Linked DNA regions of Homo sapiens. The protein of the gene in region 2 interacts with the protein of the main gene of each other region in a biochemical or structural test. Each region holds a gene or a part of one and is shown on either strand. Other genes may lie near its edges.

Region 1 (7,825 bases), on a different chromosome or scaffold from region 2:
AAATTGCTTCAAAACTTTTCTTGCAGGTCAGAATTAAGGAGGTTTTCCATACACGTGTTTGAAATCAAAAATAAAATCACAACTTATTCAACAATTAAAATTGTTACAGAACCAACCACTCAACGAAGGTGTGCCTGTGACTTTTTTCTTGTTGTTTTTCAAGTTAAATCAGTGTTCACTCGCTCTGGAAGACTTTCTCTCACATTGTGAAACACCCACTGGAATTCATGGACATTTTTCCAAGAAAAAAAACTAGGCAGTAACAACTCCGGAGATGAAGAGACAGCTCCTAGGAGGTCGGAGGGAAATCCCTTTCTGTCACTCCTAAAATCTAGCTTCCATGAATCCCTTTCAGTCCCTTCTACCACAAATGTCCCACGCTGGCCACCAAATACCCCCAACCTTGCCAGTCAACTTCACAAGCCCAGATCGTGTGACCAGAGTTAGACGATGCCACCTTGCTATTTACCTTTGCGAATGACTGTCTGATCGTGCAGCAACAGGTGCTGGTCGTCGACATTCTGGGGGAGAGAGGACAAAATTCCCTTAAGTTCGGGGGAGCCTAGAGGAGTGCGGGGTGGGGGCAGAAGGCCGTAGGGTGAACAGGTCCGGTCAGGAGCCGCAGCGCCGCTCACCTGCACCTCGTCCATCTGGTGAGGCATGTCGTGGAGCCCCAGGTTCTCGGCCAGGCCCGCGGCATCCAGGGCGTGTGCGTGGGGCAGCAGCAGGTCGGAGCGGCGGTAGGCATCCCTGCGGGCGCTCACCGCGCCCGCCTCCAGCCCGGAGAGGTGGGGCAGTAGGCCGGCCGGGCGCCCGTGGTGCGAGGGCAGCCCCGCTCCCTCCTGGCTCTGGCGGCCGGGCCAGGCCTGCTGCTGGCTGCCTGTGGGCGCCGGCTGGTGCAGGGGGTTGATGGCGGCGGCGTACGCTTCCCCCAGATGCGAGTAGGGGTCGGCCGACTGGGAGTAGGCCAGCTGCTGGTAGGGAGGGGGAAAGTAGGGTGGCGGCTGATATTCGGCGACTCCAGTGTGGGAGAGGGGTGGCGCGGGGCTGTAGAGGTGCTGCCCGGCGGAGGAGAGGTGGGGGACCCGCGGATTCCCATTGCTGCTCCCGTCGTGGCGATCCTGGAGGGAAAAAAAAAAACAGGAGACCCCGTTAGTGCGAAACCCCGCTACTGCGAACTGGCCGGCATCGCCGGGCTACGCAGAGGGCCCCGGGGGACCAACCGCACCCCGCCCGGCGGGGCTTGCCCAGGGTCGGAAGGTACCCGGGGGCAATGCGCCCCGAGGATTTCGTTGTAAGCAAAGAGTGCGGGGAGGGAGGAGAGTCTGGTGAAAGACCTGGGGGAACGAGTTCTCAAAGCCCGGCGGCGAAGGTCTAGGCGCTGCTCCCAAGCCCGAGGCGCTTGGAGGCGCCAAGTCCGAACCCTGGGTCTTGGGCCAGAAAAGTCCGTGGCCGGAGCCCGGGGCGAAGGAGCCAGAGCCCGGGGCGAAGGAGCCGGACGCCCGGTGCAGAGCTATCTCGTGGAGCCCGCCCATGACGCAGGGACTGCTGGAGGTGGCAGCGCGGCAGGCGCGGATAGAGTGCGCGGCGCGGGAAATGCGCACCTCCCCCGCCCCCGGGACCCTCCCTTCCACGCCCTCGGGACAAAGACCTCCGAGCGGGCGGCGCTCGGAAAGCAGGGCCCGCCACCCTGCGCCGCCCTGGGAAGTGAAGAGGGAGCGCGCGCACAGGGCGGCCCTCCCTGCTGGCCGGGCCCAGCCGAGGGGAGTAATAAGTGGGGGCGCCCTGCACTGCCAAGGGCAGTGTTCTCGCACGTCGGGGCGCAGAGGGGGCATGAAGAACCCTGGAAATTGGGCAGCCTTGCCCGCGCACGTTCCCTCGCCCCTGGGCGGCCCGACTCAGTTTCTAAAGGATGCGTCCCCATCTGCCCAGGGGTCTCGGGGCGCCGGGAACCTGGAGGAACATGGCGCTGTCGCCTCCTGGCGGAAGCGCCCGGGCCTGCGGGCAGGGGCAGCCCTCCAGGGCCCGGAGGCGCAGTGAACTCCCGCGAGTCCGTAGCCCGAGCTCCGCGCTCCCGGCGCCCCTGAGCTCGCCTAGCGCTGCCTGCGTCTTCTTCCTCTTCCCGCTCGCCGCCTCCTTCTTCCCTCCCACTCTCCGAAACTCTAGCTCAACCTGTCCGACAGGCTGGAGCACTCGCGAGCTCTTACGGCCCCATCTGGCCTCGGGCACCCCCACCACCACTCCCCAGCCCCCACTTCTTTTGAAAGCCAAACTTCGGTTGTTTTCGTGCTTCCCCGAGGAGGTAGCGGGGCAGGTGACAAGCCGGCCTTGGAGGAGTGTCCGCCAAGGTGTCGCTAGCAGGTAGCCTCATCTGACCCCTTTGGACAGAGACTTCGTGCGTAAAAGCCACGTCTGAGGGTTGCAGACGGGGCACTTTTCCGAGAAAACGGGAAGCAGGGCTGTTTGCCGCTTAGGAAAGCGCCCGGTAAGCTGTGTGGGTGGGATTTGCCATTCTCTTTCCAGGCCTCGTTCCCGAGGGGAGGCTATTTAGGAAAAGGCCCTATACAGGAAAGGGGCCCCGCAGAAATGGACTAAGGGGTGTCCGGAGAAGTGGATCCCGTCCCACCGAGAGGCCAGGGCTCCTATGCCCTCGTCCCCGACCTCGGTCCAGTGGCCCCTGCCTCCCGGACTGTCCTCGGCGGGGCGGGGCTGCACCCCGGAGCCCCAGCTCACCTCGCAGTCCTCTTCGTACTTGACATTATCGGTTATTTTCCACAACATGGCGTCCGGCGTCCCCCAAAACAGTCGCCAGTTAAATCCAGGATCCCCCCAGCCCCCAAGCGGTAAATCCAAAATCGGGGTCACGGTGACCAGGCGTCTGCCGCCGCCCCCGCCGCGCGCGGGCCTTGCTGTCCGGGTCACTGGACACGCATCGGCGGCTCTGCGAGCGTAGATGCTGCCGCCGCGAGTGTCAAGACCGCTCCGCGGACGGGGAAAGCCGCGCCCGAACAGTGTGTCCTGGCGATAGCCGGGGGACCCGAGCGCCTTAATGAGAAGGAAATTATCATAACTCCTCCCCGGGGGCCGGCGCGGAGGCCCAGGCGCCGGGCGGGGCGGCCCCCAGCCAGTCCCAGCCTAGCTCCGCCCCGCACCCGGGCCTGGCGCAGCGCCGAGCCCCACGCTGTGAGGGACGAAGCGCGGAGTCAGTGGGCGGTGCCTCGTTGACAGCCGAAGACCTGCGAGGCCTGGGTCCCCCGACGCGCCTTCCTTCTGTCACCTCCACCGTAAACACACCTGAGATTGGCAGAGCTGGGGGAAGGGATCCAAATACTGAAACCCACCCCTCTTTCGCCTAAACGGCCTTCACTCGTTCCTCCAAAAGACGGATGTCACCTGGAGTTAAGAAACTGCGCATTTGGGGAGCGACTCAACAACCGGGGTCTCCTCATCTCCTAAAAACACATCCCATCCCACCTACACCCCACTGAGGCTTAAGGTCTGAGCTGGGATCATGCAGCTGGAGCCCCAGTGCGCCAGAGACGCCCAGTTCCCTCCGTGGGCACAGCGCGGTCCCGGCCCCCGGGCGGGAGGAGAGAGGAAGGGACTCCTGGGGAGTCTGCCCCAAGGGCCGCAGAGGCAGCAGACGGTCCTACCCGCCCAGGAGTTGCGGACAGCGGCGTCTCGCCGCTGTCGCCCGAAGTGGCATCTCCCGCGGCTGGCTGAGGCCAGGGGGAACCCGCGCGCACTGGACCAGCCCAGCGGCCCGGCCCTGCCCTGCCCTGCGGAACGCCGGCTCTGCAGCTGCCTCTGGCGGGCCGGTCACTCAGAAGCCTCTACTCGCCCTGGGAAAGAAGCGCCGGGCAGGAATAAAACCCGAGCGCCACGGGTAAGGTGAGGGTGAGGAGGTGCAGGAAGTTGGGAGAGAGCCTGCAGAGAGCTCTCGACTGGAGAGGTAGACACCCAGGTCCCACATGTTTAGACAGAAAACGAAACTTCCTTCCACACAAACGCTGCTTCCCTCTCCCCTTCGGTACTTGCCACCCAAACTTGAAAGCAAAGTGCAATACTAATTTTTAAAATTTAAACTAACGAAATTCTTTGGCCCAGTTATTATGCAGCAATTGACTTTCATTGTAAGGGGAACATCGCTAATTCTCGAGGGCGTATTTGTTGGGACGCCCCAACTGGCTCCCTGGGCTGGATTTAAACATTCTGTGGGGATTAGAGGACAAGACTATTTCTATTTGATACTGAATACGATTTTGCAATAATCAATGCCTATCAGTACGGTGTCCGCACCTGCAGTAGACATGACTCTCCCATCCACGGAATGGCGGCATCCACTGCCTCGCTGTTCCTTCTCGGGTTCGTTTGAACTTTAGCATTTATTTAGACCCAGGTGGGCCTAAAAGAAAATAATAATAATAGGCGTCCTCCAAGGGAAACTTTCCCCCGGCCTTAGACAGCAGCCAAATCCCAGGTGATTTTCCGACCGGACGCGGGAACAAAATCTGGAAGTTGAAACCACTGAGACTTTTCGGCCAAGCATATCTGCAGGGCTTTGCACTAAGGAGAACAGTGCATAAAAAGACACACAGGACCCTGACACTTCGGTCCCAAAACAGGCTTCTGGGGGTAAAATAAGTTACCGCAGAAGCAGCGCTCCTGGTATTAGCGGCGGGGGAGGGGGACACCTGCCAGAAGCAGAAATTAGACCCAGGCCCGCAGGCACTCCAGAGCACAGGTCCAGGAAGATGGGTCCTAGACTCGCCAGAGGTGCGGCGCCTCTTTCGGGCGCCTGGGACTCCCTGACGGGTGCCGCTGGGCTGTCCGACATTCTGGGCCTTCTAGCCCTCGGTTTTATTCTCTGACCCGGCCTGAGGTGCAGCTTGAACAAGCTGTCTTGTCTGTGCTGGCAAGTTTACCTCCTGCACGCTGGGGCCCGGAATGGGCAAGAAGGTGCTCATCCCCCATCCCAGGCCCTGGCTCTCCTTTCCCACAGCAACACTAGCCAAAGCTGCCCGGAGGAACCGATATGCCTCCCCGCCTGGGAGCGTCTACGCAGGAGGCGAAGGGAGCCGATGGGCACTGAGGGCTCGCGCAGCACCGTGCCGTGGGCCCAAAGGACCCAGAGGATCCGGAACCGCTTGGCAAAGGCCATTCATTCCCAAGGAGCTTCCCTGGACCCCGGCGCTGCCCTCTTTCCAATGGGTAAGCGTTCGAACTGGAGCGCAACCTCCGCGCCCTCTGTACGGAAGGCAGCTAGAACAAATCCTCTGTCTTCTCGGCACGGGAGACCCTTCCCCAATACGCACATTCTCGGCTTCTGGGCCGGCACCCAGGCACGCGCGCGCCCTTGTGAGGAAGCCTCAACCCTTCCTTGACTTCAACTTTTCTGCTCAGCAGAGCCGGGAACCGAAGGCTCCAGCATCCAAGACAGCCTCCCTCCAACGTCCCCGCCCCTTGCCCACGTGAAGACGCGGACTGCGTGGCCGCGCTCAAGACAGCCGGCACCGGCAGAAGGGGACCCCTCTGGAACCCCGGAGGCCTCGCAGCCGCCTGGAGAAGAGGATGGAAGGTTGTCGGGGGTTCCCCTCTACCGCCCCCTAGGGAGCCTAAACTCACTTACTCCCTGGAAGCCCTGGACCCACGCCCCTATGAAACCGCAAACCAGGCCTCTGCAACAGCGGGAGCGCCCCAACAGCGCGCCACTTCCAAAGAGGCGCGAGGTGGTGCCTTTGGAAACAGGGCTCCCGGCCCCAGGCCTGAGTCATCCGCCACCCCTGCCCCCACCCCAGACGGAAGAAGGCGGCCAGGCGGGTAGAGCAAGATTCGGGCAGATCTGCGACTCCTCTTCCCGCCCCAGGGAGGGGACTCCCGAGCAGAAGATGGAGGCCCCCGAGCGCTTTCGCAGACTCCGCGCCACGCGCCGGACGTTTGTCCCGCCTCTCGGGACAACGTGAGCGCCGGTAGGGACCTCAGTAAGTGGCAGACCCGCCAGGATCAAGCAAGGTGGAAAGGCCGGGGCCTGCGGCAAACCCAGGAGGAGGGGGCATTCACGCCCGCCACCCTCCCTTCGCGGCACTGGCACCCACTGGACCGACACTGGCGTCAAAGGGCACCCTGAAGTATCTATGTCCAGTAAGGGCATGCCCTGGGGCACCACAGACATCAAGTCACAGCCACTCCAAAATAATTACAAAAATGATTATCGTAAATAACAGATTGCTTTAATAGGGCGCGAAGCGGCCGCCGCATACAGACGCCTCTGGTCTCAGTCCCACCAGATTCAGTTCACTGCTCGCTTCTTTGCGCTCCGCGTCAGGCCGCATGCTCTTCGTTTAGAACCTTTTGAGCCTTAACTCTTCCTCTCAAACAACTCCTTTTTTCAAACAGGCAAAGTGAGGCGAGGAGCTGAGGGGCTCACAGGTTCCCAAGCTTCCGAGGAGGGCCCGGGTCCACGTCAGTCCCGGCCCGCCAAACGAGACTTCGTGGGCACAGTCTCTAACCTGACAACCACCTGTCCCATTTCACAGCAGGCAAAAGTGAATTTTTAGTCGCCCAACTACCTGAAAGCCACAAAGGTGCCTAGGGTTGAAGGCCACTTTCCTAGCGGTTCTACTAGGGAGCCCGTTAGAGACATGCCTGACTCTCCCCCTGCCCTGCCCCGGGGGGGACCCCCGCCCGCCGGAGGCCTCACACGCTTGGCCGTGGGATGGTAGACTCCTGTCACCTCTCCACTAACATCCCGGAGCCCATCCGTACGCACCCTAACCGCTCGGAGCGCAGGCCCGAGGACTAAGGCGGTAGCCTCGTGTCCCCTGAGGCCTTCTCCGCTCCGTGTTCTGGGTCGCCATACACTTCCCGGCTAAGCCCGGCGCCTTTAACTCAGAACTTGGTCGCCTCCAGGCGTGGAGCAGGCCACTGTTGCCAGACGCTGCGCGGACCCGTCTTCCTGCGCCAGTACTGGGCGACAGGCAGCCCGGGCAGCACCCAGGAGCCACCCTGCACGGCCCCAGGCGCCCGTCCCACCCAGCGCCACCCCTCGCCCTTCGCAGCGAGTCCTCCCGCAGCCTCTCCTCTCTGCTAGCCCCCGGGGTCGCACCTGCCCTCCACACAGACACCTCTTTTCTCACCCGTAGGAACTGGAAGCTCATGGTGCCAGCTCTCCAACCCTCTGTGAGTTGAGGAGTTTAAGAGTAGGAGAGACGTAGAAAAAGAGTTCCCCGAGGGCCGAGTCGTGTGCGGTAAACACACGCTTCCAGCGTTTATTTAATTAACGGGAGGGGGAGGGGAAGGGGGGAAATTCACAGCCAAAACGAGCTATCGCGATTGGAAGACTGGCAGGAAAGGTCCTGGTTACTCCTCCCCTGCCCTCCTCCCCTTGGAAACTATAAACTCTGCATTTGAAAAGGGTATACCCTAGGGTTTTAAATTATCTTTACATATGTATATGACAAGCGGTACGTAGGACTTCTTCAGTCAGAAATTATTTTAAATGTAGCCTACCTCTTACTGGCAAGGGATTTTTTTTTTTAGTTGGTTAGTTTCTAAGACCAAAAGTATTAACATTTCTGGGAATTCTCAGCCTTCATGTCACATCACAGGTTTCCGGGTTCAGCTGAAATTGAACCAGGGGTAGTGAATTCTTGGGGTAGGGGAAGAAAGGGAGTGGGGTTTGGGGTCTTCCTTAAGTGCCAGAGAGATTGGTTTGCACATTACATGCTAATTTGCCTTAAAGAAAGGGGCAAAGTACATGGAAGGAAGGAAGGAAGAAAGGAAGGTAGGCAGGCAAGCAAAAACCAAGAGCCCAGTAAAATAGAAT
Region 2 (5,609 bases):
ACCAATGTCTCTGAAGTCACTCTCACACTGTTATGTGGGCTTGTCATAAGTCACTAGTCAGCTGATTGACTATTTAAGGTCTTATTCTCCCTCCCCCACCTCAAGGACAGTAGTAACATCTGATATTCTTTATAGCCAAGGATTGCCAGGATCCATTTTATAAACTGCAATGAGGGCAGAAAGAAAAAAAGTATATAAAAATATTAATGTCGTTTGGATGCAACCTACAAAATATTTTATATATTTTTTTATTCTCAGAGAAACAAACCAACCAGAGTTAATTAAGCATAGCATGCACAGATGAGTAAGTCTGTACACATCAATGGGCATATGCAGTGGATGGTAAAAACATATGGAACATATCACATCCCAAACACCAAAGAGTTCTGAGGAATAACTAATGAGCTGCATAAATATGGGCAAAATAAGCCCATTTTTATATCTTCACATTATTAAACCTAGAACAAATCTTCCTCTCTGCTAGTTGGCTTATCTAATAACAAATTTCTGACACAAAAGAGAACGTTTGTTTCATATTTTATTGAATTTCATTTATATTAAATTAAAAATATATTTCTGACAGATTCATGTAACAAAAAGGCAGAACAGTTTTCAAATTGTTCAGCTGGGATGATCAGTATGGAATGAGGCAAAGCAGTTCGCATTCTATAATTGCCTTGTACAGGTACAATTCTTTCCCAAGAGCCAAAAGAGGATCCTTGAGAACTAACGGAAAAGCCTAATTACATAAATGTAAAATACTGTTTCTCCCTCATTCTCAAATAACAACAGGAATGAGGGAAAGGAAGGAGGATGGGTAAAAGGTTGGAGGAGAAGAAAGAATAAGAGAAAGTATACTAAAAATATGCCTAACATTAAAAAAGTTAGTATGTGTTAGGTGCATGATCCTTCATCAATAACATGGAAAAAAATCAAAATAACATTACACCACACACAATTGGCATATCCTATTGTGTAAGCGAGTGCAGAGGTTGAACACATCACAATAGTGCTGAACACAGAATCACAAGTAATGTCAAAATGATAACTTCCAACCAAAAAAGAAACAATCACAGGCCAATTACTTATATACAAATCAACCCTAAAGACAATTATGTTCCAAATAAAGATGTCCACAAAAGAAAATCAAAGCAACATTATACTTATTTACAAATGCAACTAGCCATGTCTTTAACAAGCTATAAAAATACTATTCACATTTTCAAACATACAGTAGTATTTTTTGTTTGTTTATTTCAAAAAGGCAGCTAACTTTGAATGCAGGGATTTAAATAAAACATTGATGGCTTACCAGCAAGGTATTTTTGCACCCCAATCCTTTGAAGATACTTCACAAGAGAGAGGGCTTGTTTTCTGCTTACAAGTTAAGAAAATAAGGAAGTGAGTACAAATGTATACACCTTAAGCCTCTGCCTTTTCAGTAAAGTGACTCCCTCTCTCACCCAAACTGATGTCAGTAAATTACTTTGATGCATGTATAAGATGAATGTTTGAGAGTAGATTTAAGATGACTTTTTTTGTGCTATGAATTGTCTTCCACATTGATCTCATTTTCATTTGATCTTCTTGTAATGGTGCTCAAGAAAGAGATGAACTAGTCATACACCATGGGAAAATGCGGTTTCAGCATGCAGCCACGCAATCCCTGGTGCTCTCAACATGAGAAGGAGACACACCAGCCAGGGAGACAGGCATTCAAAGTTAGCTGCCCTCACACAGCTGCTCCGTTTAATAATCGACCCATTTAACAGCAGTACCAGTTTATGCTACATATTTCAAAGTACCTTACTTTAAAAGAACACCTTACATATCTACATTTAGAAAATAACTTTCGTAGTTGATTACTGGAGTAATCCCAAAAGGGTTCTTGGAGTGCTATGGTTGTAGTCCCCTCACTCCCCCCTCCCAGCCCCTGAGAGATCCAGAAATATACAGGAAAATGACTCTCACATTAAGGGAAAAGGACAACCCCCAATTAACTAAAAAATCTGGAAATGACATTTGAAAACCAGATTCGTGTCAATATACAGGAGGTATGATTTGCTTTCCTTCACAAAGGCTATAGGCCTGGGGGAAATATCTACGCATTGGGGATAAAAATAGCAGTAAAGGCAAAGTGGTTTGGACAAGTTAGACTATTGCCTACAGGTATGAATCTTTGTTTTCCTATATTTGTATATTTGCACAAATATAACCACTTCTCATGATATAGGGAAAGCTCACTAGAGCATGAAAAGAAAAACGTCCATAAAGAGCAAAAGTAGGTAAAGGATGGCATTCTATTAAACAACATGGATTTTCATTAACATGAACTGTCCTCATTATGTATTTGTTAGATGGATGAATGATCCAAAAAAGAATTGCAGGTGGTTATCAAAGCTGAATAGCCTTTACCTTTATGATAATAAGACTCCTCATTTGGGAGAAAAAAATTTACAGCAGCTACAAAATATTTACGATTAGGAACCAAATAAGATGAATAAAGCAAATAAGTTAATTTACTGGCAAAAATAACTTCTTGGTTATATGTACAGCTTTTATGTAAAGATTAAATCGAAGTTCTACCAAGTGTATGTGGACATATGTGAGTTTCAAGATTCATCACAGGGCTAACTCGTCTCAAATTCCTATAGGGAAGGACACAGAGAATTGATCTTCATGGGAAACCATAATTTTAATAGCTTAAATATTCTCTATGCGGTAGTTTGATAGTTCACTTAAACAGTGTCCAAATTGCTAGAATCTCTTATGAAAAAATCAGGCATTCGAGGGCAAAGATGAAGTCAGTGTTTCACAAAGTGGGGTGTAGGATCTCAGAGATCCACTATGGCTTAAGAAAGGAACAGGACAGCATCGGGGGACTACTTTGAACCAGGGTGGTAGAAAGGGAAGAGAGCAGTGCCAGTTGTGTCAATGGGCAAAAAAGGGAAGGATTCTATTTTCCTCTAAAGGTCAGAGAGAAATACATTTTTCTTTGATTCCTAACAAGGTAATCACTTACTTGCAAAGCTGACTGTCAAAGAGTATTTTCCAGAGGAAGCATGTGAATACCCCCCGTGAAATTGGGGCTTAGAGTCATTTTAGCTTGTGACTATAGAAGCATTTACTTCTGCCCAAAATGTCACCTGGCCAGGAATTAGGTGAGGCAGGGGCCTGCAAAAGTGACAGATCCTACATTTTTGGACCTCTACAAAATCAGTGAGACTTGAACCGAGTATCTGAAATTTCTATTATTTTAGAGAGACTTTTAATGAAAAGAAAAAAGCAGCTCACACTGCTAAAAGATATTTGCCCACACAAACACAAGGGCCCCTGGCCCGACACAATGCCCACAACAGCTTCTTGTTTCCAACTGCAGAGAGAACTCAGATCTCTGGGATCAGAAAAATTTTATTAATTCTACCCAGAAGTATAAAAACTGGCCCCATTGTAATATCAGTAATAATGAGGTCTCCACTGATAATGATCTTTTAAAATTATGCCTGATCTCATCTGTATAATATTTGTTCTTAAGCAAATAGCAACCAGGCGATACCAATCTGCATTTATATGTTTACATGGGGCAAGGCTGTCCTTCAAACTGATACACACCGAAGTCCATGTACACAAACAGAGGCACAGTAAGATCCTCTGCCCACAGTATATACAGTAGAAGTTAATTTATCTGTTTCTTTTTTTTTTTTTAACAACTAGAAGCTGATGTTGTAGGATCAGCTCTAGGATCCTCTGCCCACAGTATACAGTAGAAGTTAATTTATCTGGTTTTTTTAACAACTAGAAGCTGATGCACATGGATTTCTCATTTGCCCTATAACAATCATCATTCTAATAACTAAAGTCCAAAAGAATGGCAATGCAATAGTTTGAAACGCTTGGTTTAGCATTTATTTATCAGAAAAATTGTGATTCTTTGTTGTCATTTTTGGAGGCAAGAGGGCATAGTGAGAAAAGAAAGGACATATCACCAATTAACTGTATTTTGTTTGTTTGCTAGCTAAATGACACCACTCCTTTTTTTTTTTGTCTCTGCATAAGGTAATAGAACATTTACATTTTCTTTACTTCATCTTGAAGACCCTTACTTAGTCATATGTAACATGTTTGCCTATTAAATTCTGCAAGGTGGTGTTTATTTAAAAAAATAAATAAATACAATTTTCTTTACATTTAAAAAGTGATAAAGGAATAAGAGAATGAGAAAAAATTGTTCATTGTAATGCTTTAAAGCAAGTTTTCCCAAGTGGAACCATATATGCCTACTTTCAGCTAAACCCAACAAACAACAATTTTAAATGGCAAACTTATCTTTTTACTATGCAAAATCCATCCTACATTTTTATATCCTGCATTTAACTTTGTTACATTATACTTGTGGTTAGTTTTCTAGTTTGATTTATTTAATAATATTAAAATCATTTAACATCTGATAACCTAACTAAATCTACATCTTATAGCATTATCGTGGTTCTGTCCAGTTATATACATGCTTTCATGATCACCTTTTCTATTACCTTATGAACTACATATACTAGTTAAATTATCAACAATTACAGATGGATGAATAATTCCAGTTTTGAAATAAAGGTTAGAGAGCTCTAGAAAAACTTGTATTTACATCCTTCCCTGTCAGGCTTAAACAATTTTAATTTTCTTTTCATTTTTGATACTTCAAGAAGCACATTAATAGTCCTTCCAACTTCATCTAGTAGCAGAGCCTCACACAGTCCTTTTCTTGATTTTTCCTTAGCATTGTAAGTATGCACAATCTTCATGCCATGTCTTTCCTTTAGAAGGTATTAGCTCACACACTATAACACTTAAACACTATTCCTTCTCTTAAATTAGATATTCAGTCCTTCTCCCTAATCTACAAAAAAGAATCACTTGATTTTAGTTTGTGTGTTTTAATAGAAATTTGAGTTTTGCGTTGTTTTTCATGCTATTTTAAGAATGTTACTGGAGAAAGGATTCTCATCCTAAGCTGTGCTACTAATACTATGCAGAAAACCAGGAGCTGCTTGGTAGTCTAACACCTTTTGTGGTGCAGATGCTTTGTGGTTCTGGATCTATCCTAGATCAGAGGCCATCTTTCCTCACCTGTTTACCACTTTCTTTAGGCAATCATTTAACTGCAAAATTTTTCCATACCTGCCCAAAATAGGTATAATCTACAAAGTTGGGTGATTTAAAAAATATACTCCGTGTAATTTTAATACTAATTTGTCTCAGATTTACATAATTGATTCTGCAAATTTCAATTGCTACAATTGGCCTCTGGAATCTGATATCCCCCCAAGCACTTTGAAGACTTTAACTGACATTTTAAAATTCTACCCTACTGGACTAAATAAGTTATTCTCTGGAAGGAATGAAACTTTTTTTCTCCCTCTTATACATGCTGAAATATGTTTTCCCAGGGGGGACAAAAATAAAACAAAAAACACTCAAACAACTGAAGTCAATTATATACTACAGAAATCATTCAAAAGAATTATAAAGTGGTGCTATTATAAAGCATTTGGGTCATTTTGGATTATTCCTACATGCATCTCTAGGTATTACCCAACATGTAGAAGTCTTGTGTTCTT

The links.
Region 1: the proteins of ERBB4 (region 2) and TFAP2C form a complex in vitro, tested with the Homo sapiens proteins (one study listed by BioGRID).

Annotation. Positions count from the first base shown.
Region 1 is NC_000020.11:56,624,501-56,632,325, reverse strand, and holds the start of TFAP2C (transcription factor AP-2 gamma), read right to left. Parts: upstream 3,021-7,825; 5' UTR 2,782-3,020; coding exon 2,734-2,781; intron 1,122-2,733; coding exon 636-1,121; intron 522-635; coding exon 470-521; intron 1-469. UniProt on the Homo sapiens protein: Sequence-specific DNA-binding transcription factor that interacts with cellular enhancer elements to regulate transcription of selected genes, and which plays a key role in early embryonic development.
Region 2 is NC_000002.12:211,375,196-211,380,804, forward strand, and holds the end of ERBB4 (receptor tyrosine-protein kinase erbB-4 isoform JM-a/CYT-1 precursor), read right to left. Parts: 3' UTR 522-5,609; downstream 1-521. UniProt on the Homo sapiens protein: Tyrosine-protein kinase that plays an essential role as cell surface receptor for neuregulins and EGF family members and regulates development of the heart, the central nervous system and the mammary gland, gene transcription, cell proliferation, differentiation, migration and apoptosis.